Regions from separate parts of the Homo sapiens genome. Here all the other regions are linked to region 4. The links come from fine-mapping of genetic effects on gene expression. A gene starts in region 4. Each other region holds a variant in brackets. All regions are shown on one strand. Distances are from middle to middle. Region 1 overlaps LOC105370777 (a long non-coding RNA gene). Region 2 overlaps LOC105370777 (a long non-coding RNA gene). Region 3 holds the start of LINC02915 (long intergenic non-protein coding RNA 2915). Region 4 holds the start of THBS1 (thrombospondin 1).

Region 1 (8,262 bases), 230 kb before region 4:
GTTCAATGTCTGCTGCTTTCAAAATTGAAGAGTTGCAACAGGGACCATATGGCTCACAAAACAAAAATATTTGCTATCCAGTCATTTACAGGAAGTGTGCCAACCCCTGCTCTAAAACACAAAGTTTGATGAATAGCTAGAGAGTAGCCAGAAGGTACCCACACTGAGTATGCAAATGAAATCTCCTCGAGTTTGTTGTTGAAGGAACAGGATGATACCAGGGGCATCAGGTAACAAAAAGAACTGTTTTGTTTTGTTTCATGAGGAAACATGGTAAAGTCTATTGTCAAAGGTAACAATGAGAGGGCTCAACTCTCTAGAGCTGACACTCTTTTCTAAATCACCTTGTGCTCTCCATTTTTTTCCCCTTCTCCCAGAGGCTTTGGTTAAATCTTTTCCTAAATTTCAGTGCTTTCATTGCCTTTTTTTTAATAACAGAAAAGTACTGAACTCACATAAAACAGTGATTTAGCCAAGTGGATTGTGACAATTCAGCAGATGCTTAGGCCATAACAAAGAGCCTCTCACGTAAATCTCTCGTAATGTCTTTGTTCTCAAAACAAAGAATCCCTAACTCTTGAGCCGAATTGGTCAAGAATCCAATGTGCCCCTAAGTGGAAATTCTACAATGTTGTAAAATGCCTAAGCAACATTTGTTTTCAATTGCCATTATCCTTTCTCCCCATTAAGGAGGAAATTCTTGTTAGAAAGAATTCTAGTGTCAGTATGTTTCATAACACCAAAGGATAAAGTAATTTGGAGAAAACCAAAACTTACTTTTTAAACACATAAATGTGCTGTTTTCATACTGCTATTCATATTTACTGCATGACGTGGTACACAAAGAATATCAACATGTCATGAACAAATGGTAAAATCTGCATCTATTCCGAAAAAAACAAAAAGATAGCACCACAAATGATACTGGATTAGTCTTCTGCTAGTCAACAAAACTTAGTAATTAATGAATCCCTCTTATGTGGCAAATGGTGGAGTTTTTCTGGCCTTTCAATATGATGATATCTAATCATTATGTTAAATTAAAAGACGGATTTTTCTTAATGCACTACATAGTCCCAAAAGTTAATTATATGTAAGAGCAAAAGAATAGAGAATAATTAACCATAAAATAATCTAGGGAGTCAGACAATAATGTTTAATAAGTCCCCTTTTTTTTCTAAGGACTATTTTGGGAACATTAGAAAAATGCACAAAGAAAAAACATTTCAAGTGACATACATATTATAATTCAGATTTTCATTACAAGTAAAATAGGAGTTTTCTTTTTCTTTGGAAAATATTTCTTTCCAAAAAGATTTACTAGAGTCTTTGTTTAGAAAAATGAGCAACTCTGATAGCTTTTTTATTCAATTCATAAAATTTGCATTTACTTTCAAACTTTTAGCACACTTTGCGCATTAAGAAAAGTATACCTTAAGCCGGGCACAGTGGCTCATGACGGTAATCCCAGTACTTTGGGAGGCTGGGGCAGGTGGAACACCTGAGGTCAGGAGTTCAAAACCAGCCTGGCCAACATGGTGAAACCCCATCTGTATTAAAATACACAAATTAGCTGGGAGTGGTGGCGAGCATCTGTAATCCCAGCTACTCTGGAAGCTGAGGCAAGAGAATTGCTTGAACCCGGGAGGCGGAGGTTGCAGTGAGCCAAAATCACGCCATTACATTCCAGCCTGGGTGACAGAGGGAGACTCTTTCTCAAAAATAAAAAAGAAAAGTATACCTTAAAATATAAACTTTTAAAGTCACAATTTAGGGGAAAGAAGAAGAAAATAACTAGGAAATAATATTTTCTTTCCTTTTGCATGCTTCAGGCAAGTCTAATTCCAAACACAAAAGGGAAAGGGTATGGAGCACAGACACAGAAGAAAGAATTCCTGAATCTTTGGTCTGCTGACCTTCAACAAATAAATAAACATTTAATGCTCAAGTGCTTGATCTGGACAAAAAGAGTTGAAATACAAGGCCCTGTTTATTTCCAAGGACTCTTGTGAGGAAAATATGACATAAAATAGGTTAAGTGGATTTTATTAATTGAAAATCATCAAATATTTATTAGACAATATTGGTAGAAAACACCAATAAGATATTAAGGAAAAAATACCAATGTCTTCTGAGCCCCTCAAATCAAACTATAGAGAGCTATTTATTCCATTTTTCATGCCTGCAGCTAATTAGAGTTGGCCCTTCATATTTGCAGGTTTGGCATTTGTGGATTCAGCCATGGATTAAAAATATTTGAAAATGGCTGGGTGTGGTGGCTCATGCCTGTAGTCCCAGCACTTTGGGAGGCGAAGGCAGACGGATCACCTGAGGTCAGGAGTTCCAGATCAGCCTAGCTAACACAGCAAAAACCCATCTCTACTAAAAATACAGCAGTAGCCAGGCAGGGTGGTGCACACCTATGATCCCAGCTACTCGGGAGGCTCAGGCGGGAGAATCACTTTAACCCGGGAGGCAGAGGTTGCAATGAGCCGAGATCGTGCCATTGCACTCCAGCCAGGATACGAAGAGCGAAACTCCATCTCAAAAAAAAAAAAATTGAAAATGAATTTTAAAAAATAACAATGCAAAAATAAAATAATACAAATTAAAAATATATTATGGTTTAACTATTTACATTGCATTTACATTGTATTAGGTATTATAAGTAATCTAGAGATGATTTAAAATATACAGAAGGATGTATATAGGTTACATGCAAACACTATGGCCATTTTATGTGAGGGACATGAGAATCCATGAATTTTGGTATCCACAAGGGTCCCCTACAGTTACCTGGGAAGGGCTGTATGGCCTTAGGCCAAATGTCTAACATTTTTTTTAATGGAAATATTCTGCTATTTCGCAATATTAATGCTTATTCTACTAAGATAAAGTTTCATATAGAAACTTTGTTGTTAAGCTTCTTTGTGTTGTAACTTTGTCCAGTGGTGCAAAGAGACAGATTTCATACATCAGTAGGAATTGATGGAGTATAAATGGGTAACAATAGTATCCCTGAAAATTTAAAATGTCCTCATTTCTGTAAACAAACATTACACTTTGAGGAATTTATCCTATAATAAAACTTGCATAGGTACACTATTTTCACTTTCCCTTGGTCATCTTAGTAAGTATAAAAATATTAATTACGATATTATTTTAATAGCCTGGATTGTAAATGATATAAATGCTCTTCAATACATTAACACATACACTTATTTATTAATCGGTTAAATAAATTATATATATTCAAATAACAGAATGCTATTATAGCTTTGAAAATAATAAAGCAGCACTGTGTAAACTTACTAATGATAGCCCCTAAGATACTGGAAAGTAAAAAAAAAAAAAAAAAACAGAATATTGCATAATACACTATTTAAAGGAAAAAAAAAAAGATGATACATGTGTTTGTGTTTTTGTGTGTGTGCGTGCACATTAGGACCATCTCTGAAAGAATTATACAAGTGGTAACAATGGTGGGGCGGGGAACTAGGAAACTGGGGGATGGGACGTGATAAGACTTACATTTTATTTTATACCC[T/C]TTTATTCATTTTGAATTTTGATTCATAAACACGTAATTCAAAAACTATTTTCTATAAGCAAAATTGACAAATGAGATTTCCTATCACAATTTTAGGTTACTTCCCTGATGGATAATGGCTGCAACATTCAGAAAAATTCACAACTAATTTAAAAAATTACATTACACCTTATTTTTCAGAAAATCTAAAACATAATGGTTTTTAGTTTCCATGATGATTTCAGTTGTTTCTCTTCTGGAAAGCTGACGTCTTTGGAAGAATCAAGCTTCCTAATTAGATTGTCATCTCATTTGTGACAAGCACTGAGGAATTTTCAGATGATAATTGAGAGTCAAAAAGGCCACAACATTTTGCAAAGGTTTCCAGGCTGTGTGGGAACATCATAAAAAGATGGTTCTTCTCAAAGCTACTGAGATGACTACCAAATTTAAAAAAAAGAAGACAATAAAATAATCCAGACAGATTCACAGAATCCTAGTGGGGACTCATTTCTCTAGGACCAGAGGAAGGTCATGCCAAGGATCGCGTATTCTCTATTTTGCCCTCTACCTTGGAGGTAAGACAGCAGTTTAACTGGGGCCAGTGGGAAAAGAGGTGAGAAAAAACCAGGGCAGGTCTGAAATGTGGACATGAACATCAATGGGGCAAGGGACAGGGTGCAACTAGGCAGGCAGATCAGGGTCCCAGCATTTGTGTCCAGTCCATATGGTCTGATGTGAAAAGAACGACAGAAGAAATATCTAGGCCGTGGTGAAATACAGGTGTCTGGAATTGGCACAGTCTGAGAATTTGTGGGGAGACGATTTTAATCTAATTTAAATTAGGATCCTAGTTATAGCTAAGTGACCCTGGGCTAGGGTCTAGCTGTTGGGAAGAAAAGCCTAGAAAACACTAGCTGAGGTTCAGCTACTTGGGTGTTAACCTGGGTAGAGGCTGAATCCCCAGCATAGAGTAAGCAACATTGAAAGATGTAGGAGGTGAGGATGAACTTGGTGAGCAGCCAGGAGAAGACCTCACCCTAGACATATGGGACCAAGAAGTCCAGCAGCAAGGCCAAATCCAGAACCCAATCATTGGGAGAAAAGTGTGAGTAATTTCTAAGTCATGATCCTTAATTCTGTGCTCTTTTTTATAGTTTTATTTTTCTTTCTCATGGAACTCAGTCTGATGTATTCCATTATTATTACCCGACTAATTACTCCAAATGAATATCTCACAGCCTGTTCTAACAAGCAATGTCCTACACTCCTTTCCAAGACTTGTTTATTTCTTTGCTTGCTTGCTTTATTCTCTAACTACAAACTAGACACTTCCTCTGGGATGTTCCACCATCATTTTAAACTCAACATGTCTTCTTAAGCCAAATGCAACACCTTCCTTTCCCTTCTGTCTTAGTCTATGTCTGCTGCTATAACAAACTGCCTTAAACTTGGTAATTTATAAACAACAGAAATTTCTCATAGTTTTGGAGGCTGGGAATTCCAAGATCAAGGTCCAGCAGATTCAGTGTCCAGCGAAGGCCCATCCCTCATAGATCGTACAATCTAGGTGTCCTCATATGGCAGAAGAGGTGGAAGGGCAGAAGAGTGCTCCCTTCGACCTCTTTTATAAGGTCCTATTCCCATCTGTGAGGATTCTGCCCCCATAAGTTAATCACCTCCTAAAGGCTCTACCTCAATATTATCACGTGGACAGTTAAGTGTCAGCATATGAATTTTGGCAGACACATTCAGACCACAGCATATTCCTTTTTTCCTACCCCTCTTCCTCTCTCCCCAGCTTCTTTGTTCTGTTACCGGTATCTCCATTCTGTCACCCAACTTCAAAATCATGTAGCTATACTTTTGCCACCTTCTTAAAATAACCCAGAGTCAGAAAGTTCAGCATTCATTCATTCAAATATTACACTGAATGCAAAGTTAGACAAAACTTCATTTCAGATACTGTCCCCTCTTAGAAATGTACCTTCTTTCTGTTCATTTCTGCTTATTCCCACCACTATACACTCAAGGTCTTCATAACATGTATCCAATTATTGCAAAAGCTTCATATCAGGCCTCCATGATTCTGATTTCTACACCTTCTAATTCATTCATTTCTTTACATTAATTTTAAGGTACATTTTCATGTAGGCACTGCATTGTAATTCCCTGGTGCTTACCTGCCCCCGTCTCTAAACTCTATGCTCTTTAAGGGAAGGCCCACATTAATCTCTCCTACCATCATATCCCAGAGCCTATATCAGGATATGAAATACAATAGCTTCCAAGAAAATTTATTTAATGCTTGAAAATGTTCAATATCTCCCTGTAACTTGTTGCATCAAACCTCTACATCTCTGCTTAGTTCTCGTGTGGCCACAGATTGTCTATTTACCCATACTGCCCATTTCTTCACCACCTGCTCCCTCTGTATTCCTCAGGCTTATTTATTCACTCTATGCTAATTCCCATCTTCACTAACTTATCCCCACTGTCCTATTGCCTGAAATGCCTGCCTTTTCCCTCCCTTCCAGAGGGCCTTGACTCTGCACTCAGCTGCAGCAGGTTTTCCAGCTAAAGAGGGCAGTTGCAGAATGACAGCCATCCCTCTTCCTGCCTTCTCAGAGAAGCGTTCATTGCCCCCTCCCTTTCCACAGTGTCAGAGCAAGGACGTGCTCTCTCCCTCCTAAGGTTTTGGCAACTGAATGCAAGTCTGTCAACGATGCAAAGGGAGCCAAAGGGCAGAAAATAAAACCTGTCAGAGGCTACAAAGAGGTCCTTCGTCCAGCACCACCCCACAACCCCCAAGTTCAGCAGGGCAGGAGGGGAAAAGGGCAAGGAGGCTCACAGACTCTGCTACACCAGAGGTTAGCATTCATTTGCTTCCTAATTCCCCAGCCAACCTGCTTCTTGGGTAAAAATTGTGAACTTGGCAAACCTGTATTTTGTCAACAACGGTTCTTCAATCCCCTCAGCATTATTACCATCTGAAAGCTAAGAAGCTGGAACAGCTTTTCAGGGATGCAACAGGCTAGAGGCAACTGATCATTTCAGATACCCTTCACCTGTGGGTTAAGGAGGCCGGAGCCACATCCCAAACATCCTTTGCAATTGCCATAAAGCATAAGTTTAATTAAAACATTTTGTTACATGCCGTCTCAAGCACCAAACTCTGCAAGAGATTCTAAGTATAGAGAGGTGAAGAAGAAGTGGCCTCTGGTGTCGCAGCAGCCCTGGCATCCCAGCACATCCACCCACGAACTCAGTTACAAGCCCACAGAAGGTTTCCCATCACCACGTTTGTCCCTCTGGGGATAAACTCCCTCTAGAACCCACTTTCTTTGCCTCTCTGACCTTACTTCAAGCCACTTCTGTAGAGTTCTAGAGCTTTTTTTTTTTTTTAAAGACAGTGGTTCTGTCACCCAGGCTGGAGCTCAGTGGTGTGATCTTGGCTCATTGCAACCTTTGCCTCCCAGGCTCAGGTGATCCTCCTCCCACCCCAGCCTCCTGAGCAGCTGGGATTACAGGCATGCATGACCACACCCAGCCAATTTTTATATTTTTAGTAGAGACAGGATTTTCGCCATGCTGCCCAGGCTGGTCTCGAACTCCTGACCTCAAATGATCCACTAGCCTTGGCCTCCCAAGGTCCTAGGATTATAGGCGTGAACCATGGTGCCTGCCCCAAGATCTAGATTTTCTTATGCACTGCCCATCTTGCCGACTTAATGTTTTGCATTGTTCACTTCTTCCTTAATTCCGAAAGCTCTCTTTTGACTTTGCACTCTGATTCCCCTTTGCCTCCAGCTTCTCCCATACAGAGTCTTATAGGTCTTATTCTCCCATACAGATTCTTACAGGTCTGGCTATCAGAATCCAGGTCTGATGATGACTGCACAACATGGTTGGACTTAATGCCACTAAGTTGTACACTTAAAAAATGGTTAAGTGGTAAATGTTATGTTATGTTTATTATCACAATACAACATATACATATATATATCCCAAGCCCAGCCGGAGCCCCTAGACCTGGCCCCGGCAGCAGAAGCCATCACCTGCTGTGAAGGAACTCAGACTCAAATAGGAGATACACAATTTAACATCCATTAATTGAGGGAGAAATTACTGACCATCTACTACACGTTAAACACTGGGAACTGAGAATTCAGGGAAGACCATGAAAAATATACTACTGTCTTTATGAAGCTTAATCTAGTCTGGGACATAGTCATCAAGCAGACAGGCACAAAATTAAGTAATTCATTAAAATACTAATAAATGCAATGAAGGGAAGTACAGGGTCCTATGAAAGCACAGAGCTGGAGGATGGGGCTTCAGAGGAGACTTCCCTGAGAAAGTGACCTTGACACTAAGAAGTGAAGGACAAGCCATCATTTCCCAGGCAAAAGGGGTGTGGTGGGGATGGTGAGGGTAGGGCATTCAGGCAGGGAGAATGGCATGTATAAAATAAAGGACCTGTCACAAAAGGTAGGAATTAATGTGGTTCTTTTGAGGGACTGCTAGAAGCCAACATAGGGCCCAAGCAGAGAGGCACAAGACATCAGGCCAGCTGCCTGACACAAGCTCCAATAGCCTGAAGCACTAAACCTCCATGAAGAGTTAATGGCTCACATCTGTAATCCCAGCACTTTGGGAGGCCAAGGTGGGCAGATCACCTGAGGTAAGGAGTTCGAGACCAGCCTAGCCAGCATGGTGAAACCCCTCTCTAATAA
Region 2 (8,262 bases), 320 kb before region 4:
CCCAAAATCTCACCTTCCACAGATGTAGCAATTTTTCATTTTTAAAATAATTTATAATAATGTTCTAAGATGAGGATTATCTGTGTAATTGTGTAATCATCTATCTAGCTGCCCAGAGAATTTTCTGTTCAAGAACATGCACCTCCTTTCCTAAATAAATAAAACTTATTCGAAGATCCTGATACCGAAGCCTAGCAGAGACACAACCAAAAAAGAGAATTTTAGACCAGTATCCTTGATGAACATTGATGCAAAAATCCTCAATAAAATACTGGCAAACCCAATCCAGCAGCACATCAAAAAGCTTATCCATCATGATCAAGTGGGCTTCATCCCTGGGATGCAAGGCTGCTTCAATATATGCAAATCAATAAATGTAATCCAGCATATAAACAGAACCAAAGACAAAAACCACATGATTATCTCAATAGATGCAGAAAAGGCCTTTGACAAAATTCAACAACGCTTCATGCTAAAAACTCTCGATAAATTAGGTATTGATGGGACGTATCTCAAAATAATAAGAGCTATCTATGACAAACCCACAGCCAATATCATACTGAATGGGCAAAAACTGGAAGCATTCCCTTTGAAAACTGGCACACGACAGGGATGCCCTCTCTCACCACTCCTATTCAGCATAGTGTTGGAAGTTCTGGCCCGGGCAATCAGGCAGGAGAAGGAAATAAAGGGTATTCAATTAGGAAAAGAGGAAGTCAAATTGTCCCTATTTGCAGATGACATGATTGTATATCTAGAAAACCCCATTGTCTCAGCCCAAAATCTCCTTAAGCTGATAAGCAACTTCAGCAAAGTCTCAGGATACAAAATAAATGTACAACAATCACAAGCATTCTTATACACCAATAACAGACAAACACAGAGCAAAATCATGAGTGAACTCCCATTCACAATTGCTTCAAAGAGAATAAAATACCTAGGAATCCAACTTACAAGGGACGTAAAGGACCTCTTCAAGGAGAACTACAAACCACTGCTCAAGGAAATAAAAGAGGATACAAACAAATGGAAGAACATTCCATGCTCATGGGTAGGAAGAATCAATATCGTGAAAATGGCCATACTGCCCAACGTAATTTATAGATTCAATGCCATCCCCATCAAGCTACCAATGACTTTCTTCACAGAATTGGAAAAATCTACTTTAAAGTTCTTATGGAACCAAAAAAGAGCCTGCATCGCCAAGTCAATCCTAAGCCAAAAGAACAAAGCTGGAGGCATCACGCTACCTGACTTCAAACTATACTACAAGGCTACAGTAACCAAAACAGCCTGGTACTGGTACCAAAACAGATATATAGATCAATGGAACAGAACAGAGCCCTCAGAAATAACGCCGCATATCTACAAATATCTGATCTTTGATAAACCTGAGAAAAACAAGCAATGGGGAAAGGATTCCCTATTTAAATAAATGGTGCTGGGAAAACTGGCTAGCCATATGTAGAAAGCTGAAACTGGATCCCTTCCTTACACTTTATACAAAAATTAATTCAAGATGGATTAAAGACTTAAATGTTAGACCTCAAACCATAAAAACCCTAGAAGAAAACCTAGGCATTACCATTCAGGACATAGGCATGGGCAAGGACTTCATGTCTAAAACACTAAAAGCAATGGCAAACAAAAGCCAAAATTGACAAATGGGATCTAATTAAACTAAAGAGCTTCTGCACAGCAAAAGAAACTACCATCACAGTGAATAGGCAACCTACAAAATGGGAGAAAATTTTCGCAACCTACTCATCTGACAAAGGGCTAATATCCAGAATCGACAATGAACTCAAACAAATTTACAAGAAAAAAACAAACAACCCCATCAAAAAGTGTGTGAAGGACATGAACAGACACTTCTCAAAAGAAGACATTTATTCACCCAAAAAACACATGAAAAAATGCTCATCATCACTGGCCATCAGAGAAATGCAAATCAAAACCACAATGAGATACCATCTCACACCAGTTAGAATGGCGATCATTAAAAAGTCAGGAAACAACAGGTGTTGGAGAGGATGTGGAGAAATAGGAACACTTTTACACTGTTGGTGGGACTGTAAACTAGTTCAACCATTGTGGAAGTCAGTGTGGCGATTCCTCAGGGATCTAGAACTAGAAATACCATTTGACCCAGCCATCCCATTACCGGGTGTATACCCAAAGGATTATAAATCATGCTGCTATAAAGACACATGCACATGTATGTTTATTGCGGCACTATTCACAATAGCAAAGATTTGGAACCAACCGAAATGTCCAACAATGATAAACTGGATTAAGAAAATGTGGCACATATACACCATGGAATACTATGCAGCCATAAAAAATGATGAGTTCATGTCCTTTGTAGAGACATGGATGAAATTGGAAATCATCATTCTCAGTAAACTATCACAAGAACAAAACACCAAACACTGCATATTCTCACTCACAGGTGGGAATTGAACAATGAGAACACATGGACACAGGAAGGGGAACATCACACTCTGGGGACTGTTGTGGGGTGGTGGGAGGGGGGAGGGATAGCATTGGGAGATATACCTAATGCTAGATGACGAGTTGGTGGGTGCAGCGCACCAGTATGGCACATGTATACATATGTAACTAACCTGCACATTGTGCACATGTACCCTAAAACTTAAAGTATAATAAAATAAAATAAAATAAAATAAAATAAAATAAAATAAAATAAAATAAAACAAAATAAAAAAAGATCTCTCCTCTACATAGAATGAGTTGACATTTCCTCTTTACAAACTTGCTAAAAGTAGCACCCCAGGCACTTGTCACTTAAATGAGATAGGTATTTAACCAAGACGATAAAATATTAAAACTGAAAAATTGTATGTGTCAGCCACATATAAGATCCTGGGGGCAACTCACAGACTATTGGGTCCCCTCAGGATCTATGGCTCCTAACCTGGTGGGCCCTACTAGTTTCTGGAAGGTGGAGGAGAGCTGTCCTTAGAATTCTGGAGAACTTATCACTATCTACACCTACCTTGTTTATCTGTTTGTTCATATGTATATTGCCTGCCTCATCCACCACTAGATTGTAAACTTGAAAGTAGGGACATGTTGTCTTTTCAGCCTTGTAGTTATAGCTCCCAGAACAGTGATTGGAAAAGAGTAGATATTATAAAAGTGTTCTGAATAATTAAATGAATGAATAAATGAATCCATGCTGCTTAAAATATACCCTTCCCCTTTGTTCCACCTTCCTGTGTGGACAGGTGCAGGGATCCCTCCAATGACAAACAACTGAGCAAAGAGTTATGGAATCAGACATCAAAAACAAACATAAAAGAATGACATATCTTCCAAGGAACAGGATTCTTGAGAAACATGTCTCTCCTATCCAAAGGGTGCAATTAGGAAATTTCCATGATTA[T/G]GAAAAGAAATTTACTGGCCATTCTTTAAACTCAAAATGGCTAATGCCTGGTGTGTGCATGTGTGCGTGCCTGTGTGTGTGTGTGTGTTTATGGGAAGCAGTTGGGGAAAAGCATTTAAATTGGCTCTTAGAGATGCTTTTTGTGACAAGAATGTAAGATAATTATAAACCAAATTTTTCCCCATAATAAATGAGTTATAGTCAATAGTAGACAAGCAAATACCTATTGACTAGGAATTATATGCTGAATAATGTATTCAGCTGCTAAGGCTATTGTTATAAAATATCACACACTGGGTAGCTTAAACAACTTAAATTTATTTTTTCACAGTTCTGGATGCTAGAAGTCCAAGATCAAGGTACTGGAAAATTTGGTGTCTATATTGAGGCTGACAGACACCTGCCTCCTCTCTGTGTCCTCACATGAACTTTTCTCTTTGTATGCAGAGACAGAGAGAGAGAGAGAGAGAGAGAGAAGGAGAGGAGAGAAGAAGGGGGAGGGGAGAGAGAGAGAGACAGTTTACTGGTGCCCCTTCCTCTTCTTATAAAGACATCATTCCTATCATATTAAGCCCTACTCTTATAACCTCATTTAACCTTAATCACCTTCTTAAAGCTGCTGTCTGTATATACAGTCACAATGGGGGTTAGGGTCCCAAATATGAATGGGAGAGGGCACAATCCAGTTCACAATAGATGATAAAGGAGAGAATATAAATGAGACACTGATTTTCTCAAAAATGTTTCAATCTAGAGGTGGGTTGGGGAGTGGAAACCAATGCTGCCCTTGCAGAACTTTAACACCTGACCTGATAGGAGTTCCAAGAGAGATGTGAAAAACAATTGCCCTGAGACTGCCAAAGGAAAACTAATGAATTTGATTTAAAATTATTGAGAAAGGCTATGTAAAGGAAATATTAGAAAATCCCACAAATATGAGACTCCATAATAGCTTTCTTCTGAGGCAGATTTCAAAAATAGCAATCTGGAAGAATTTAACAATAGGGGAATGGAATGAAACCTCTGAAAGAAAACAAGATAAGATCTATGAAAAACAAAGCTTTAAAATACTAGAAAAAAATCCCTCTTTGAGAGAACTCAATAATTGGATATATGTGAAGGTAGCTGCTTTCTGATTTATTATAAATGTCTGGTTCACAGACCGCAGCAGCAAGGTCTTATCCACAAAGAAATAAGTCTAAACAAAAATTGACAGTATGTATCTCAAAATAATAAGAGCTATTTACGACAAACCCACAGCGAATATCACACTGAATGGGCAAAAACTGGAAGCATTCCCATGGAAAACCAGCACAAGACAAGGATACCCTCTCTCACCACTCCTATTCAACAGAGTGTTGGAAGTTCTGGCCAGGATAATCAGGCAAGAGAAAGAAATAAAGGGTATTCAGTTAGGAAAAGAGGAAGTCAAATTGTGCCTGTTTGCAAATGACATGATTATACATTTGGAAAACCCCATCGTCTCAGTCCAAAATCTCCTTAAGCTGATAAGCAACTTCAGCAAAGTCTCAGGATACAAAATCAATGTGCAAAAATCACAAGCATTCTTATACACCAATAACAGACAGAGAGCCAAATCATGAGTGAACTCCCACTCACAACTGCTACAAAGAGAATAAAATACCTAGGAATCCAAGTTACAAGGGATGTGAAGGACATCTTCAAGGAGAACTACAAACCACTGCTCAACGAAATAAAAGAGGACACAAACAAATGGAAGAACATTCCATGCTCTTGGATAGAAAGAATCAATGTTGTGAAAATGGCCATACTGCCCAAGGTAATTCATAGATTCAGTGCCATCCCCATCAAGCTAGCAATGACTTTCTTCACAGAATTAGAAGAAACTACTTTAAAGTTCATATGGAACCAATAAACAGCCTGCATTGCCAAGACAATCCTAAGCAAAAATAACAAAGCTGGAGGCTTCATGTTACCTGACTTCAAACTATACTACAAGGATACAGTAACCAAAACAAACAGCATGGTACTGGTACCAAAACAGATATATAGACCAATGGAACAGAACAGAGGCCTCAGAAATAACACCACACAACTACAACCATGTGATCTTTGACAAACCTCCCAAAAACAAGCAATAGGGAAAGGATTCCCTATTTAATAAATGATGCTGGGAAAACTGGCTAGCCATATGTAGAAAGCTGAAACTGCATCCCTTCCTTATACCTTATACAAAAATTAATTCAAGATGGATTAAAGACTTAAATGTTAGACCTAAAACCATAAAAACCTTAGAAGACAACCTAGGCAATACCATTCAGGACATAGGCATGGGCAAGGACTTCATGTCTAAAACACCAAAAGCAATGCAACAAAAGCCAAAATTGACAAATGGGATCTAATTAAACTAAAGACCTTCTGCACGGCAAAAGAAACTATCATCAGAATGAACAGGCAACCTACAGAATGGGAGAACATTTTTGCAAACTACCCATCTGACAAAGGGCTAATATCCAGAATCTACAAAGAACTTAAACAGATTTACAACCCCATCAAAAAGTGGGCAAAGGATATGACAGACATTTCTCAAAAGAAGACATTTATGCAGCCAACAGACACATGAAAAAATGCTCATCATCACTGTCATCAGAGAAATGCAAATCAAAACCACAATGAGATACCATCTCGTGCCAGTTAGAATGGCGATCATTAGTCAGGAAACCACAGATGCTGGAGAGGATGTGGAGAAATAGGAACGCTTTTACACTGTTGGTGGGAGTGTAAATCAGTTCAACCATTGTGGAAGACAGTGTGGTGATTTCTCAAGGATCCAGAACTAGAAATACCATTTGACCCAGCCATCCCATTACTGGGTATATACCTAAAGGATTTTAAATCATGCTGCTATAAAGACACATGCACACGTATGTTTACTGCAGCAGTATTCACAATAGCAAAGAAATGGAACCAACCCAAATACCCATCAATGACAGAATGGATTAAGAAAATGTGGCACATATACACCATGGAATACTATGCAGCCATAAAAAAGGATGAGTTGGTGTCCTTTGCAGGGACATAGATGAAGCTGGAAACCATCATTCTTGGCAAACTATCACAAGGACAGAAAACCACACACCTCATGTTCTCACTCATTGGTGGGAATTTAAAAAATGAGAACACTTGGACACAGGGCGGGGAACATCACACACTGGGACCTGTCGGGAGTTGGGGGACTTGGGGAGGGATAGCATCAGGACAAATACCTAATGTAAATGACAAGTTGATGGGTGCAGCAAACCAACATGGCACATGTATACCTATGTAACAAACCTGAACGTTGTGCACATGTACCCTAGAATTTAAGTATATATATATATGTATATATACATATATACATATATACACACACACACATACACACACATGTGTGTGTATATATATACATATGTGTGTGTGTATATATACATATATGTATGTGTATATATATACATATATAATTGACAAAATATCTACATATCTATGTCTATACTCACATATTTACCAACGTGCAAGCATTTTAGAAGTCCCTTGATTCTAATTTATTAATCTGAACAAGTGGACATTTTTTAATAGGTGAATAACTTCTACTGATAAAACCACATTCATCTATGATTAAAGAACAAAAAGCCCCTTTTCCTAGTTTATGTTTTCTTATGTGGAGGGATATAAACTCCTGTTAATAATGTGCTGCTACAGAGAGCCTTCTTTCTAGGATATCTAAGACCTGGGATTTCTCTAATCATGGGTGTTCCTACCTAGGCTTGACCTGCATTTAGGGAAACAAACTGGCAGTTTTATGTTAACAAATATAATGTCAATCTGTCTGTCTTCAAATATATTTTTAGCTAATCAGCAGGACTTCCGCAGGACATATCACTTTCAAAAGAATGGCCTGCATCTGATTCCAATTTGAAATCTTGTATTTTCCTGTGAAATCACTCCAGCAGTATCCTTCAAAGCCCATTTCCTACCATGTTGCCATTCCCTGTTTGCCTGTGACCCCTCTACTAGACTGCAACCTCTTCGATGACAGCCCTTGCCTTGTCCACTGCCATATCCCTGGCACCTCGCATAGGCAGTCTCCCCTTGAAGGTTTTCAGCCTAGGTCATGAGTGTTCCTAACAGCCATTTTCCAAAGTTATTCATGCTTTTGTCTGGAAAACTTTCCAGTCTAGCACCTGGACTGGAAACCTTCACATAAAAAGTATGTTCTTATGCAAAAAAAAAGCAAGTTGATTATAATATTTTAAATTGAATGCATCTGTTAACTAAATGGTAACAATAGACAAATAGACAACTGAATGCATCTCTTATAATTTGGTATGGCTTAGCAACTAAAGCTTCTGCCAATGAAACGTACGCATAACAGTGAATGCAACTTCCAAGAAGTTCCTTAAAAAGAGGAGTTGCTTTACCAACCCACCTGCCTCCTTCCAGCTAGCTGGAATGTGGATCTGATGGCTGGAGTTCCTGTAGCCATTTTGGATGATGAAGTTCTTTGAGTAAGAAAGCCATGTCCAGTGAAACAACAAGACAGAAGAACCCTGGATCCCTGATGCAAAGAATCACTGACTACCTTTCCCACCTCCAATTCAGACTCCTTTCATGTGAGAAAAGAACTGCTCTCTTGTGTAAATGGCATTATTTTGCTTTATTTTGACAATCATGGCCAAATCTAATCCGTAATCTTAGCGTCTGAGAGAGCAGTTTATCAGTCCAGCATCTCTCAGGAGATATTAGATAATTTATAATGGTTTCATAAGGGCCTTTGGGGAGGAATTTATTTTAGTGCTATGCAAAATGTCATTCATGGACCAGTGACAATCCAC
Region 3 (8,262 bases), 330 kb before region 4:
ATGACAAAATGGAAAGACCATTTCTACACCAAGCATTGAGCCATAGGAAAGCGGAATGTCAGTCAGGGCATCTGCAGATCAGGAAATCATGTCACAGAAAACAGGACCTGTATAAGATCTAAGTTTATGCCATTTGCTGATCAGTTACCATATTTCAAAAATTATACACACTGTAATCCCCTCTCTCTGTTCTGCGGGCCCTTTGAAGAAGAAGGCATTTTTAGCAAATGTCCTTTAAATGGAGAAAAGAGGCAGATCAATTTACTCCAAACTACTTCAGATTAGATCTTAGTCAGAATGCCTCCCCAGAGTGGAAGCTCTTCTCCAGAAGTACCTTTCCTGTTGGATTCAGGTTCAGGGTTGGAACCCACAGACCCAGAATGATAGGCTATCAGCAAAGAAAAGCATGTCATTAGCATCCAGCAGCCCTCAGTTTGTCCTTGTCTCCTTCATCTTCCTTCAAACTTCTATTTTTCTCTTAGATTTCCCTGAAACTCTTTTAAAAATTCCTTTTGAAACAAGTGGGTGCCTGACTCATTGCCTATTTCCTCTGTTTTCCACCCAAGTGGTAAACAATGGGCTCTATTCAAATATGGACCGTCTGTGAGCTGGGAACCTGCGTGCAGACAAAGCTCCTTGTCCCAGGGCAGACTGCCAGACCCATGCTCTCCTCCACTCACCTCCTAGGCTGTTTAATAAGGGCCACTTGGCAAAAGGCAACATATTGTCATGGTCCTGTGACCTTGTAGTTCTCTGTCTCTTTTCCCTTCAGCCCGAAAGAATATTTCTCTAAATTCTCAAGTCAACGCATTTGAGAACAGCCTTTCAAAAGATACTTGTAGGAATAACAGAAGGTAGTTCAGGACCCAGTCAAAAGGACTATCTGGCTTTATTTACAATAATTTTAATGCCTCTGTCCTAACTCCTCCAAAGTTATTAATATTTTGTCTGTAGATGGTGGTTGCCAGGAAAGAGAATCTTGCAAAGTCAAGGGCATGACAAAGCTGAGAAATAGAGAAGGCTAGCCTAAGACTTTGGGAAGAGAAAGGTGAAGGAAAAAAATAGTAGGAATCAGACTATGGAACAAGAAGAACGGGACAAAGTTTCAAGTCCAAAGTGAGCAGGTAAGACAAAAATAACTGAACTTAAATGACAGAGTAGTCTTCAGGGAAAAAAAGAGAGAGAGAGAAGAGACTAGAGAACACATTTGCTTCAAGTGCTTGAGGAAAGCACACCTCCAGTGTGTAGAGGAATCACAGGAGGAGATTTTGCATATGGTGTCCAAACTCCCTTCCCAAGAATTTATGTTTCCTGAAGAACACTGCCAACTTCCCCCCTCCATCTTAAAATGGTAAGAAAGAGAGTTAAAGAGAAGGTAAGGGAAACAAATAAATAATTACGATAATCCAGTTATATTAGATATGTGTGCATTTTAAAATAACTTCAACAACCATATGAAATTGTGGCTCTTGTTCCTGTTTTTTTTACAGATGAGAAAATTGTAGCTTATGGAGTTTAAATAATTTGCTCACAGTCACAGAATTAGCGCTAGAATTTAAAATCAAGTGGTATGACTAAAAAACCATGAGAAAATTCATTCCTTCTTTTACAAAACAAGTCACTCTCTACTGACAATCAAACCCAAGTCCTCTAGATTCTCCATAATATTATTTACATCTATCCTCTTCTATCCAGCCCTACTGTCCCTCCCTCATAGCTTACTAAGTTTTCCCCAAAAGCCTCCTGACCTCCCTTCTCTGTGTCCCCCCATTCTTTTCCTTTCTTCTTTCCTTTTCCTTCCTCTCTCAACATGTATCTCATCAATTCCAACCTGCTTAAAACCCTTCAGTGACTTCCCACTGACCTAAGATTAAGTCATTGCTCTCAAATATGGCACTGCTTACCCATTGTTCTGCATATTATATTCTCTCTCCATCACTTTCTATGTTCCAACCACATTGGACTTCTTTAATATCCTCAAAACTACAAGTCGTATACCAGGGAAGGGCTTTTACACAGGCTGTTTATTCACTGTGGAACACTCCCTCCTCCTCTTCTCTTAGCTCAGCCATTCGCAAACTTTTGGGGCTCGGCCCCTTTGTGCTCTCAAATCTTCTGAAGAACCCCAAAGACCTTTTCATTTTAAAAAAGGTAGATTATATCATTATATCATGTTGCAAATTAGAACCAATTCTTTTTTAAATATTTAATTCATTTTAAAACAACATAGTAAACTGATTATACCTTAACATAAATAACATTTTATGAAAACATAGCCACGTTTTCCAAAACCAAAAATACATGAGTGAGACTAGTAGTGCTGTTATGCATTTTTTGCAAATCTTACCAATATCTGGCTTACTAAAGGATAAATGGATTCTCATGTCTGCTTCTGCATTCAATCTGTTGTGAAATCTATGTTATGCAGCTTCTGTAAAACTCCATTGTACACTTGTAATGCAATAAGAATGAAAAGGCAAATGACTTCTTAGTATTATAGGAAAACAGTCTTAACTCCTCCCTAAAAGTGTCTTAGGCAGAGACATCCAGGAAACCCAAGGTATACATTAGGAACTCTTAATTATCCTTAATATCTTGTCTTAAAGTTAAAATTTGCAAAGATGTCTTTCCTGACCTCAAAGAATAGGTCTGAGTCCTCTTGTTATATGTTTCTATAACATTCTTACCTCTCTGTCAAAACACTCACCGTACCTATAATTTATTCAATAATTTGCATAAGGACAGGGACCATACCAACTTTGTTCATAGTGAGTCTCCAGTGCTCAGCACACAGCAAGGACTCAGAAAATCTTTGTGGGAGGAAGCAGGAAATAGAAGGGGGAGAGCAAGGAAGTAAGGCCTCAGACTCAATGACACAGCTCCCTGACAATCGCTCCATTCCTTCAGCAGGATGTACACAGAGATATAACTTTCTACAGCATCCACTGCAGCTCTGGGCTCCATTTCCCTTTGAAATGGGATGGGAGAAAGGGGCAGGTAACAGACTGGAGTGAGGAGACTGAGGAGAAACTGTAGAGAATAATACTTAGGAGTACACGTGCTGGATTCTCTCATTAAGGTAATCATTCAATATTTACTAAGCAGCTACAATTTGCCAGGCATTCTTCTGGGCACTTGGGACACATCAGTGAACAAAATAGAGAAAAGTTTCTGGCCTCAAGCGATTTACAGGCAGACCTGAACTCAACCACACATCCCTCCACTTGAGTTGGCCTGGATTGTTTGTTTAATCTTCTTGTGCCTTATTTCTCTCATCAGTAAAATGTGAACAAGCCTTGAGAGTTTCCAGGTGAGAACTAAATGAAAGAATATCTTTAATGTACCCAATAGAATCAGGCACCTGGTAGGTGCCTAATAAATGGAAATCTTTCTGCTGGCAACTCTTATTCCAAAATTGATTTTTTTTTCATGTACAGAAACTATTCGATAGATTAGAATCCAGTCACTCACAGGATATCACTTGGGTAGTTGTCGGGGAGGGGGAGTGGTGTATTTAGGGTCTTCTCAGGATTCGGGGGGCTGGCTGCAGTGTCATTTTCCTATAGAGAAGCATCACCTCTGGCTTCCTCTCTTCTTCACAAGCCACCTGGATATGTTTACATTGAACTATGCAAGGTACTATTGTAGTCTTAAGCTATGCAGTATTTCAAAACAGACTTTCCTGAGGACTCTTACAAAAATAATTATGCCACGAGTGTCAGACTATTTGAAAGAAGATATTCATAGCCAACTGTTTGTAAGGGACCACCTCCTTACATGGGTTTATTGTGTATCATAGGGTTGCTGGGGTTTTCCAACTTCACCCTCTGAGTGTGGGTTGGCCTTTCTGAGAAAGCTACACTGCCTTTGAAGTAGGACTACCAGGAGAGAGGGGGGAAAAAAAAGTGTAGGGCTCTTTGACTTTTCATTTCCCTTTCTATCTACTTACTCTTTGTGCCTTCTCCAGTTAGTACCACACTAGAGAAGTGTTAGGTAGAGGAAGAGGAAGAAAGAAAAAAGGACAATCTTATCAGTTGATTTTGCTATGTGTTACCAGTCTGGTAAAAACATTTGAAGTTAGAAAGTATTCAAACATGAATAAAGTTTGGGAATTACTTGTATGGATTTAATTTCCTCAGAATACCCTCATTGTTCCTTCGCAGGAAATATTCATGAGTCAACTATCCAGAATCATAGTTATTATTCAAGCGGTGTGGGTTTAAAAGGAGATTTGATGCCATGGCAAACCTCACTGACTTAGACTGTTCTTCAAGTTAAAGAGCAGGATGATGTCTGAAGTGGCTGAAACACATATGGCTTCAGTGTGTCAAGAAGACCTGAAAGATCCCACATGGAAGTGAAATTCATTACTGGCAAGCACGGTGGCAGGAGACCCCAGAGGGCTGAGCCGCAAAGAATTTGCAGAGCCTTATGGCTAACTCCATGGCCTAGTTTGATCTTGAAGTTACTGTCTTGGATAATCCTCTCAAATCTGTTCCTGCACTTAAGAGCCACTCATCACATGACGGAGCTCCCTCTCAGGTTCCTTTACATCGCCCTGTCAGAAATGACTTTCAGGGAACAGACATCACATCAAATCATCCAACAGATGTCCCTTTCAAATAAGTTGGAGCAGAACCAACTATATGGAGAAGTCATAAACAAAGAAACAGACAACCCAGTGATTTCCAGCGGATTGACATTACTCTTTGCACAGAAACCTCAGTCTCCTGGGTGGAAGAACATGAGTTCAACAAAGCGTGTGTGCACTATATTGGCTGACTCTTGCCGTGCTCAGGCTCATGCTGCTGACAGGGGAGAGAGGGGACATTTTGGAGTCCAAATCTTGCATCATTTCATTGAAGTGTTCAATGTCATGGCTGTAAGAAGTAACCCATTTTAATAACTGGCATCAAAGGATTTAGGAGAGAGAAACCCAGTATCCAGACCCATTTCCGTCAGTGACACTCTCCTCGTATTGGGAGGATTGGCCAGAATCGTCTGATTCCTGTTTCTGATTTCCTTCCTCACTGGCATCAGAGTATTTCACTATAGGAAAACTAATATCTAACTGAGCTCCAAGTGCTAAATAACAGCATCTCATGTTCATTCCGGGTCACCAAGAGGTTCAGGGTGACCAAGTCACAAACTATAAATTTGAA[C/T]ATTTGATGATTTTTGCAGGAGACTGGGTGAACAAAGGAAAACCCGAGAGATACATAAAGGTGGAAACTAGGATTTCTCATTTGAATTATTTAACATGCCTCACTCTAATGGTTATAAATGTAAAGGAAATGCAGGTTCTTCAAGAAGGTGAAACGAAGTTACTGAATTTAAGTTTTTTTTTTTTTAAACCTACTTTAGAATAGGAAACATGCTTACTAATATTTACAAGGCACTACAAGGCACCAGCCAAAAAGCCTGATTTATTGGCAGGATATTCTTGTTGTTGTTGTTTCTATTGTCCATATAGGCAGGCAATTAATACTTTTTAGAAAATTAAGTTGCCAACTCAACACTGCCTACTTTTGAATTTTTATTCTAGCAACAGCCGATAATTTATTGGAAATTCCTTATGTGCTGGGCACTACGCTAGACATTGGGAGTACGAAAATTAATATGGTAAAGATCCTGGCTTTAAAGAGTCTTTAACATTATTTCAGCAGTTTTATTACAGGTGTATATGTTGGAATTGACAGAACACTTAGCTCAAAGCAAGGGTTCAAGCATGACTTTGCAGAGTAGATTTCAGCTGAGCTTAAAGGATGTGAGAATAAGTATACACATTTTTTAAATTACCCAGAATGTAGTGCCTACAGAAGTGCTTGAGCCTCAGTTGCTTCTAAGAGTCCAACTTCAGAACTTGTATCTTCTAGATTGAGCTCATTGCTTAATTTCTAGCCAACATAGCCCATCTCTCTCAGCTGAATACTAAGCTCATCAACTTCTCCTTTGATCTAGGTCTTGATTAGAATGTTGAACATGACAAGGCTGAAGGCAGAAACCATAGAAACTTCTATCCAGAGTTACACTCGTCTCTTAATAGCTGCCTACTGTTGCAATCAGAATAAACTCACTTCTTGCCCAATTATGACAGTTCATTCACCTTCTACTCAAGGGAGACTTTAAGAATTGTTGAAGTTGAACTTCTCAGGTTCTTATACTTAGTGACACTGTTCATGCAATGGCTCAGTATTTCTTGATTTCTCAGAACCAGCAAAAGTCACAAACTGAATCCTCAAATTGGAATTCGTAAGTGACTAACTTGTAGCATAACTTTATTATACTAGGAAAGATGGGGCAAGGGACAGAAAAAATATCTGTAACATCTTATATGTTCAAATATAAGCGCTTTATGTATATTTAGTCATTCAAACTCCAAATACACATTAAGAAGTAGTCATCAATATTCCACTCTCTAATTCTACAATTTCTACCTTTTTAGATTCCACATATAAGTGAGATCATATGGTATTTGTCGCTCTGTGCCTGACTTATCTTACTTAACATAATGTCCTTAGGTTCATCCCTGTTTGAAAATGGCAGAATTGCCTGTTTTTTTTTTTAAGGCTAAATAGTATCCTATTTTGTATATTCAGCACATTTTAAAAAATCTGTTCATCAGCTGACGGACACTTAGGTTGATTCCTTATCTTGGCTCTTGTGAATAATGCTGCAATGAACACAGGAGCTCAAACATCCCTTTGAAATACTGATTTAAATATCTTTGGGTATAAACCCGGAATTGGCTGTGGGGAGTTAGACAGGGAAAATGTCCACATTGCTCTACGGATACAAAGTTTCAGTTAGGAGGAATAATTCTGGTGTTCTATTGCACAGCACAGTGTCTATAGTTAATAGTAATGTATTATATATTTCAAAATAGCTAAACAAAGAGAATTTTAATGTTCTTACCGCAACGAAATAATTGTTTCAGAAAATAAATATGCTAATTAGCCTGATTTGCTCATTCCACAGTGTATATACATGTATCAAAAAGTCACATTGTACCCCATAAATATACAAAATTATTTGTCAATTACAATAAAACTTTTTTTTAAAAAGTAATTATCAAGGTCTCCATTTGACTGATAAAACTTAGATTAAATCTGAGCTAGAACTCAGCGAATATTGCACCAAATGTTCTTCCCATTATGCTCCTCCCTCTTCCTCGCTAAGATTGCGCCCCTTCTCCTCCCTAACTCGCCACAAGTTCCCATCACCCTTCACTAGTTTTCAAACCAAGGAAAACATCATTCAATGAATGATAATACTTGACCAAGAACTTTTAAAGAGTTTTGAGTTAAAGAAAATGTGACTTGGGTTAAAGTCACATTTTAAACTTGTGATTTGTGTTAAAGAAAATGAAACCCCTAAATGACTTTTCTTAAATAGGCATTCAAAAAAAATTGACCTTTTAATCACTTAATCCTCACATATCTATATGCTATGGACTGAATTGTGCTCCCCAAAATTCATATTTGAAGCCCTAACCACTTCCCCACAATGTAACTGTATTTGGAGATAGGGCTTTTATTTAGAGATGGAACATTGAACCTAATTAAGGTTAAATGAGGTCATTGTCATTAGGGTGAGACCCTAATCCAATAGGACTCGTGGGTTTATTAAAAGAAGGGACTGATTCTCTCTCTCTCTCTGCCTCTCTCTGTCAGGTAAGGACACAGTAAAAGGAAGTAATCTGGGAGCCAGTAAGAGGGCCCTCCCTAGAATCTGATCATGCTGGAATCCTGATGTTGGACTTCCAGCCTCCAGAACAATGAGAAATAGATTTATGTCATTTAAGCTACTCAGTATTTTGTTAAGGCAACTTCAGCAGACTAATACACTATATAATCTATGGACCCCCTCCAGGAATGCCATTTGGACCATTTTACAAGAAGAGTATGTGAGATTCAAAGGGGTCATTAGGACATACGATGAGGAAAGTTGGTTATTCCAGGGTTTTACTTACTAAATTCCAGTACATAATTCGAACCACTGTGGTACACAGTACATTTTCCCACAGGAATGCCATAGCCTGCTATTCCAACAGGATCAGGGAATCAAAAGTGAGCAAATTCAGGCGGTGCAACTGTACTATATTGGACAGATGGACAGATGGGCATGACTCTGCGGTTAGCGGGAGGAGCACCATCTGTTGCGGACACACAAGTGCTTCTTGCTCTCCTTGGGAAAACTCACAGATGTTTCCATAACAGGTGTGTTTGCTTCCCCCATGTAGCTTTCCCAGACACGTCACACACA
Region 4 (8,262 bases):
CCTTGCTAATCTTCCCCATTTCCATCTTTCGGCCCAGTGTGAGACCTCACCATCTCCTTTTCCCATCTTCTTTCCTCCATACCCTTGGTTTCCTAGCAGGTCAATGCCCCTGCCCCTTCACTGGAATCCATCCATCCTGGTTATTCTTTTCTTTATGAACCTGCTGGACTACATCTCAAAGTTACCCAAAAGAGGGATACAAAGACACAATAAAATCGGAAATAACGCTCACCCTTACCAGCCTGCAGTTAAGAGTGTGTGGAACTAGGGTGGCTGCAGGCAAAGAGATAGGGGGAAGGGCTGCCTCATGCCATGGGCAGGACAGTAAATGGTGCAAATTTTCTGGAAAGCATCTTAGTAATATAGGTGAAGAGCCTTTACAATGTGTTTATCCTATGACCTATCCTTACTTCTCTTATTCTAAAGGAATAAGAAGAGGTTTAATCAAAGCATGAGTGAAAAGGCCATCCAAACACAGGGAAAGGGGCCGTTATGATGTCTACGGTTCTAAGAAATAGAAAACAACAACTTGGCTTAAATAATAAGCACATAACCAAAGAAATCTAGAAGTAGGATTCCCTTAAGAGTTGAGAGATTTAGCAGCTCAAAAATGTGACCTGACATACGAGTTCTTTCTATGCTTTTGTTCTTCCTCCTCCAACACTGGTTTCACACTAAACTTGGCTCCCCAGTGGCCAATAGCACCAAACAGCACTTATCGGCATTCTTGTTGGTATCCAAAAGAGATGGAGAAAGCCTGATTTCACATGGCTCTTCCTTAAAAGCAACAAAGGACTTTTCCCGGAAGCCTTCAGCAAACCTCGTCAGATTTGAATCACATGCCAATTCCTAAATCAGTCACTGGCAGGGAAGTGGGAAAAAGGGGAGGAGGTGTTTACCCTTAACCAATATGCCTACCCCTGCCCACTGAGATCAATTCCATAAAAGTATTGCTTCAGTTCTTTGAAGAGGAGTACAATGTTTGTGAGTCACTCACCACATTTACCCACCAAGAGCTAAGGGATAACTGAGTAAAATGGTAGAGCTGGTAGGAAAATGGTGAGTAGTCCCGTCCTTCTGTGCCATAATTGACTTGTACACAAAGAGATTTGGAAATTTAAACATAAGAACTCTCTCTTCCCAAGCCCAGGGCTTTGGGCACTTCAAGTCTGGTCCTTGCCTGGGCACAGTGGCTCACGCCTGTAATCTCAGCAATTTGGGAAGCCAAGGAGGGTGGATCACCTGAGGTGATGAGTTTGAGACCAGCCTGGCCAACATGGCGAAACCCCAACTCTACTAAAAAATACAAAAATTAGTTGGATGTAGTGGCACACGCCTGGAATCCCAGCTACTCAGGAGGCTGAGGCAGGAAAATCGCTTGAATCTGGGAGGCAAAAGTTGCAGTGAGCTGAGATTGTACCACTGCACTCCAGCCTGGGAGACAGAGCAAGACTCCATCCCACCCCCCACCAAAAAAAAATTCTGGTCTTTACATGTGAAAAAATAAAAGCTAATTTTTAAAAACTAAATAATAAAGAGTGTTAGGTGATAAGTTTTATGATAGAGATAATGTGTGCTTTAAAACACACAGCATAAAACAGATGGAAAACACCTCATGGAGAAGGGAGAGCTTGAATTGGTGTTTGATTGAAGGACAAGAAAAATCTGTTGGTAACTTCCTCCTGGCTCTGACCTCTGATGCAGTTAAAGTAAAGCAACTTAGAATTATGATCTAGGGAACATATTCAGAGAGAAATGAATTTATGATGTCTTCAATTTGAAGATGCTATGATTTTAGACTATTCTAGAATACAATGATTTTTCATTGCTTCACACTTGTAAGAAATGTTCCACTACTGAAAATTTGCAACACTTAAAAAATTCCTACACAAAATCACAGCCCACCTTGCTGTTCTATGCTAAATAAACAAAATATTTTTTCTCAATTATGTTGCTCTCCTTAATTACACGCAATTTTAAAACTAGCTGTAACTGACAGCCCTTTCCTCACACTTACTGCCAATGTATTTAGGTCAATCCCACCTCCAATTAGAGAAACTTAGAAAAAGGAAATCCTACGGTGAAATGCCATATGCCTTACAATTTTCAGTAACTAATCCTCAAGGATGACAACTTGGCAAAAAAGAGAACTGGACCAGCTCCCTGAAAGGTCCATCACTTCGGCCCATGTTAATTGATTGCCTTAAAATCACAGTGCTTCCAGGTTGTAGAGACACACTCAAAATGGACTATTGCCCTCACATTAAAGGGGATAGGTTTTCTTTTCCCTTTTCCCATCCCTGCTTCTCTCAAAGCTGCACAGAGGTATATGAGGTTTGGGGAATATTTGCAGCACATGTTGGCTGGCAAGAATGTGGGTGAATTCCTGTTAAGGGGCGCAGACACTCCCTCTTCTATGACCTTTCCTTTCCACCCAGAACAACTGAAGTATCATGATAAGAGGAAGGGCTTTGTGTTTGAGATAAGCAGCTCCTATACCTGTCAGCTTTCTCTAATAAGAAAGCTCTTTCCTGCCACCGTATAGGTCACCTTCTTATTGGTAAAGCATGATGAAGTTTGGAAACTGTTGTCCTTGTTTTGTTGAAAGAAGCCAAGTTCCAAGAAATCTGCAGAGGCATTCCTACAATCCCTCAGCCATGGCAGCATGAATCCTGAAGGGGCAGTGAGTGCTGGTTTCTACTCTGTCTGCACAGCTAAGCCTAGGGGAGATAATCTTTTCATACAAGATGCATTCTGCTTTTGTGGGCCTCTTGCAGCCCTCAAGCCCCCATCTGATTTGTACACAATGATCCAGTGGGCCAGAGGAGCCCAGAGCCATGAGCGGCCCATCCCTCCAAGAACTATTTCTGACTGTCCAGTATCATGGAGCAAGTGGAAAGAAGAAAAAAAAAACCCAATTACTTTTCGAAGAGCAAGATGAATGCTGTAGAAGGAGAAGGAAGGGGAGGGAGATGGATGGGTGCCGATTCCAGAATCTTCAGATCTGCTTGGATGAATCATTACCTATGATTTGCGGGACAAGAATCTGATTTTATTCATCAACCAGTAGAAACTTTTCTTTCTGCCTCCCAACATCTGAAATCCAACAAACATGTGCCTTAGGAACATACCGGTCATCTTTTAGAGGCATTTTATATACATATTGAGTAACTAGAAAACACTCTTTCCGTAATACACACACACACACACACACACACACACCATCTTGTCATACAACACTCCCACGCAAGAAAAGCGAAACTGCTGTTTGATGAATGTAAACACTTGGCTGTTTGCAGCAGTCGGGAGTCCTGCCAGGTTTAAGTGCTAAGATGGGAGGTGAACCCCAGGGGTTTCCCCCTGCCCGTGCTGAGATCCTTATTTGGTCAAGCTTCTACCTATGCCCTGGCCTCGGAGCGAGCCCGATAGCGCTGGATCACAGCAGAGGGAGCGAGGCGGCTGACGTCCCATCCCGAAGAGATGAATGGAATTCCAGGAAGCTAGAGTCATGCTGGCTTGGGACAGTGGCTTGGAGACCAGACTTCAATGACAGAAGCACTAGGCAGCGGCACTCATGGCAATGTGTGCACCCACAGAAATGTAACCCACACCTCGGGTTCAGGAGCCGAAAAATGAAAAGAACGTTTAGGGAGGAAAAAGGGAAATACAATAATAGGCAGAGAGTAATTTATTACTCTATGGGTCTGCTCTGTAAATAGCTGAAGACTCTGGAGCCAGATGGTTCTGCAAATTCTCCAAACAGGAGTCACGTTAAGAAGCACGAGTGGGCACAAAAACTGTTTTTCAAGACACAATTTCAATTTGGCTTGTGGAAACTGGATACGAGTAAGTTTCCTTAAAATTCGAGTAGAAAGCAGCTGTCCTCCCCGGGCCCCTTGATGAGAATACGCACACCGCCCCCAAGCGGCCGGCCGAGGGAGCGCCGCGGCAGCGGGAGAGGCGTCTCTGTGGGCCCCCTGGCAGCCGCGGCAGGAAAGGGCCCGAAGGCAGCGAAGGCGAACGCGGCGCACCAACCTGCCGGCCCCGCCGACGCCGCGCTCACCTCCCTCCGGGGCGGGCGTGGGGCCAGCTCAGGACAGGCGCTCGGGGGACGCGTGTCCTCACCCCACGGGGACGGTGGAGGAGAGTCAGCGAGGGCCCGAGGGGCAGGTACTTTAACGAATGGCTCTCTTGGTGTCCCCTGCGCCCCGTCGGCCCATTTTTCTTTTTACAAAACGGGCCCAGTCTCTAGTATCCACCTCTCGCCATCAACCAGGCATTCCGGGAGATCAGCTCGCCCGAAAGCCCCTGCGCCACCCCGCGGGCCCTCCTAGGTGGTCTCCCCAGCCCCGTCCCTTTTCGGGATGCTTGCTGATCACCCCGAGCCCGCGTGGCGCAAGAGTACGAGCGCCGAGCCCGTGCGCGCCAAGGCTGCGTGGGCGGGCACCGACTTTTCTGAGAAGTTCTAGTGCTCCCAAGCCCCGACCCCCGCCCCCTTCACTTTCTAGCTGGAAAGTTGCGCGCCAGGCAGCGGGGGGCGGAGAGAGGAGCCCAGACTGGCCCCCACCTCCCGCTTCCTGCCCGGCCGCCGCCCATTGGCCGGAGGAATCCCCAGGAATGCGAGCGCCCCTTTAAAAGCGCGCGGCTCCTCCGCCTTGCCAGCCGCTGCGCCCGAGCTGGCCTGCGAGTTCAGGGCTCCTGTCGCTCTCCAGGAGCAACCTCTACTCCGGACGCACAGGCATTCCCCGCGCCCCTCCAGCCCTCGCCGCCCTCGCCACCGCTCCCGGCCGCCGCGCTCCGGTACACACAGGTAAGTCGCCCCCGGCGGCCGCCGAGGACCAAAGCTGCCCGGGACATCCACCTGGAGCGCTGAGGCTTCAGTCCCTCTGGTGGACCCCGGAACCTACACTCTCCCCGCTCGCCTACCCCAGCCCGCTCCTCTCAGCCGCTGGAGGACTCTTCAGGGCAAGGCTCCAGAGCCATCCTCTCCAGCCTTGAGGTTCACAAACCAACTCATCAGGACACCCCAAGATTTCCTTACTCTCTGAAGTCCTCCTTAAGCCTTTGTATCAGCACTCCAGGGAAGAGTCTGTACTTCCCCTGCCCTCCCTGCAACCCCAAACTACAGTTCCTGATCTTGCTCACCTTCGACTTCCCAAAAGCCCCCAAATTGTTGGTCTTGCGCCCCCCACACTTTAAAACCAGCATCTCTTTCCTCCACCTCTCTCTCTCTCTCTCTCTCTCTCTCTCATGCTCTCTGGAAAGTAATCCTGTTGTCCTTCATTTCAGCAAACGCGGGGTCAAAGAGGGATGGTCCCGGCCCTGTCCCCATGCCCAGCCCCGTTTCTGCGCACCGTCCCTCCCTGCCTAGCTGATCTCTGACCCTCGGCTCTTGTGCTTCCTGCTACAGGATCCCTGCTGGGCACCAACAGCTCCACCATGGGGCTGGCCTGGGGACTAGGCGTCCTGTTCCTGATGCATGTGTGTGGCACCAACCGCATTCCAGGTGAGTTTGTGTGGCACCTTTAGGGGAAGGAGGGACAAGGAAGAGGTGCTGGCTATCCCAGGTGTGCCCCCTCACGTGCTGTCCTCTCCCTCTTGAGCCTGACTGGACATCAGGACGCAGCTTCACTCTGATCCTGGTATTTATTCACCTCTTTCAGTGGTTGCCAGGAGTTTTCACCCCAACCCTTTGTCTCCACCCCTAAGGACTCAGCCCCCTACTGCTGGTCCCAGCCTAGAAAGCTCACTTTGTGTTCTCTCCTGTCTAACAGAGTCTGGCGGAGACAACAGCGTGTTTGACATCTTTGAACTCACCGGGGCCGCCCGCAAGGGGTCTGGGCGCCGACTGGTGAAGGGCCCCGACCCTTCCAGCCCAGCTTTCCGCATCGAGGATGCCAACCTGATCCCCCCTGTGCCTGATGACAAGTTCCAAGACCTGGTGGATGCTGTGCGGGCAGAAAAGGGTTTCCTCCTTCTGGCATCCCTGAGGCAGATGAAGAAGACCCGGGGCACGCTGCTGGCCCTGGAGCGGAAAGACCACTCTGGCCAGGTCTTCAGCGTGGTGTCCAATGGCAAGGCGGGCACCCTGGACCTCAGCCTGACCGTCCAAGGAAAGCAGCACGTGGTGTCTGTGGAAGAAGCTCTCCTGGCAACCGGCCAGTGGAAGAGCATCACCCTGTTTGTGCAGGAAGACAGGGCCCAGCTGTACATCGACTGTGAAAAGATGGAGAATGCTGAGTTGGACGTCCCCATCCAAAGCGTCTTCACCAGAGACCTGGCCAGCATCGCCAGACTCCGCATCGCAAAGGGGGGCGTCAATGACAATTTCCAGGTGAGGCTTCTTCTCTGAGCCCTGCTCCGTGGGATCATCTGCTAGACAGGTGACCTGCCAGGAGGGCTACAGGAAATCCTGTCTGTAAACTAACGCAGCAGTTCTCAGATTTTAGGCAGCATGAGCATCACCTGGAGGGCTTGTGAAAGCTCACCCTGCTGCACCCCAGCCCCAGAGTCTGGGATTCTGTAAAACTGCAACTCTAACAAGTACCAGGTGATGCTGATGCCGGTGGTCTGGGAAGCACACTTTGAAAACTACTCAAGGAAACAAGAAATGGTTTTCCTTTAGCAGTCAGCCTGTTCAAGCCTTAGATACTCCTTAGGCTCTTAAGAAAAGAGCTTATTTCAAATGCATTCCCCCAATTTTAATCTTGTTTGAAATGGATACTTTCTATGGGCAGAATCAGTACCACTTTGCTATTGGATTCCTCATGGGGATGCAGCTGGTCTCACATAAAAGGTTAAAATAGCAGTTAGTTGTTGCTGTTACAGCTTCATCTGTGCCTTAACTTCTAGATCTTTGCAACGGTGGCTTTGAACTCCCACATTTAACTCTTTGACACTGGAAAGTGTCATTATATCCTCTAGGCTTAGGATCAGATTCCATTTCCTGTGTACCCAAGTAGGCTGATAACTGAATTCTTTGTAAAATACTCAAGACTTGGCAGAAGTCACAATTAAGATTTTGAAGTTGTTTGGCGATTAATGTTGCTGTGTTATTTTGACATAGTGATCTTAAGACAGCTCTTTGAAGCTTTTAGAACATCTATTGTATGCTTTTCCTAGCATACAGACAGTCTCCCCCAACCCCATCCCCACCCCGCTCTGCATTCTACAAGTAATGTGTGTCCTCTGCCCACAGGGGGTGCTGCAGAATGTGAGGTTTGTCTTTGGAACCACACCAGAAGACATCCTCAGGAACAAAGGCTGCTCCAGCTGTGAGTACCCCTCTATTTTTAGGGCACATAGGGAATCAGGGGGAATTCCACCAAAAACAAACTGAGGAATTTAGCAATAGTGGTTATACATAAATTACCCCCAGTGAGATCATCAAGAGGCATACAGAAGTGACTCCAAGGGGTATTATACACACACACGTATACACACGTGCGCATACACGCAACCCCTCTACCTGCATCCTTCACACCAAATGAAACGTCTTCTACCACTAAGAACTCAAGAGGCTGGTTGGTAAGAGTATCTATTTGAAGTTTTCATTTTGTTTCTTGCCAGCTACCAGTGTCCTCCTCACCCTTGACAACAACGTGGTGAATGGTTCCAGCCCTGCCATCCGCACTAACTACATTGGCCACAAGACAAAGGACTTGCAAGCCATCTGCGGCATCTCCTGTGATGAGCTGTCCAGCATGGTCCTGGAACTCAGGGGCCTGCGCACCATTGTGACCACGCTGCAGGACAGCATCCGCAAAGTGGTCAGTGGCCTCTGCACCCAGCCCGTTAGCATGAACCCTGGAAGGTTTATCGCAGATGGTCCCAAATGACTGAAAATGCGGGGGGACACTAATGATATTCTCTCCCATTTAGACTGAAGAGAACAAAGAGTTGGCCAATGAGCTGAGGCGGCCTCCCCTATGCTATCACAACGGAGTTCAGTACAGAAATAACGAGGAATGGACTGTTGATAGCTGCACTGAGTGTCACTGTCAGGTAAGGGACCTTCACCAGCCAGAATAAGAATCGACGGCTTTTGTTTGAACCTACATCTTTGGGGAAATACCCTAATCGCCACAGAGATTCTTTTTATGTTCCATGGCCTGATAACAAAGTGTTTTTTTTTTCTTTAAGATGCAATTATGGCATCTATAAGTTCTTCTTTAAACTCTCAGATGGTTTATCAAAGTATTAATTATACCCCAGGCTAAGTATCTAAGAGAATGAATCTACTAAGACATCTGAATAATTTAC

What was found.
Region 1: its variant is fine-mapped to the expression of THBS1 in whole blood (TOPMed, PIP above 0.99).
Region 2: its variant is fine-mapped to the expression of THBS1 in whole blood (INTERVAL, PIP above 0.99).
Region 3: its variant is fine-mapped to the expression of THBS1 in whole blood (TOPMed, PIP above 0.99).

The regions. Positions count from the first base shown.
Region 1 is chr15:39,344,789-39,353,050 of GRCh38, forward strand. The region is part of intron 1 of LOC105370777 (a long non-coding RNA gene); the gene reads right to left. Among named protein-coding and RNA genes, the nearest start is that of LINC02915, 98 kb to the left of the region's middle. The variant T/C (reference allele first, on the strand shown) is at 3,548.
Region 2 is chr15:39,257,144-39,265,405 of GRCh38, forward strand. All of the region lies in intron 1 of LOC105370777 (a long non-coding RNA gene), which reads right to left. Among named protein-coding and RNA genes, the nearest start is that of LINC02915, 11 kb to the left of the region's middle. The variant T/G (reference allele first, on the strand shown) is at 3,410.
Region 3 is chr15:39,247,785-39,256,046 of GRCh38, forward strand. LINC02915 (long intergenic non-protein coding RNA 2915) reads left to right here and starts at 2,885. Exons shown (of 2, transcript NR_144508.1): 1 at 2,885-3,079; 2 at 4,275-7,061. All of the region lies in intron 1 of LOC105370777 (a long non-coding RNA gene), which reads right to left. The variant C/T (reference allele first, on the strand shown) is at 5,163.
Region 4 is chr15:39,576,419-39,584,680 of GRCh38, forward strand. THBS1 (thrombospondin 1) reads left to right here and starts at 4,661. Exons shown (of 22, transcript NM_003246.4): 1 at 4,661-4,810; 2 at 5,411-5,506; 3 at 5,775-6,334; 4 at 7,199-7,274; 5 at 7,570-7,769; 6 at 7,882-8,004. The coding sequence starts at 5,440. LOC124903470 reads left to right here and starts at 3,389. Exons shown (of 1, transcript XM_047433405.1): 1 at 3,389-4,576. The coding sequence starts at 3,900. The coding sequence ends at 4,334. RefSeq lists an enhancer at 3,752-4,489 and silencers at 3,912-4,141, 4,152-4,201.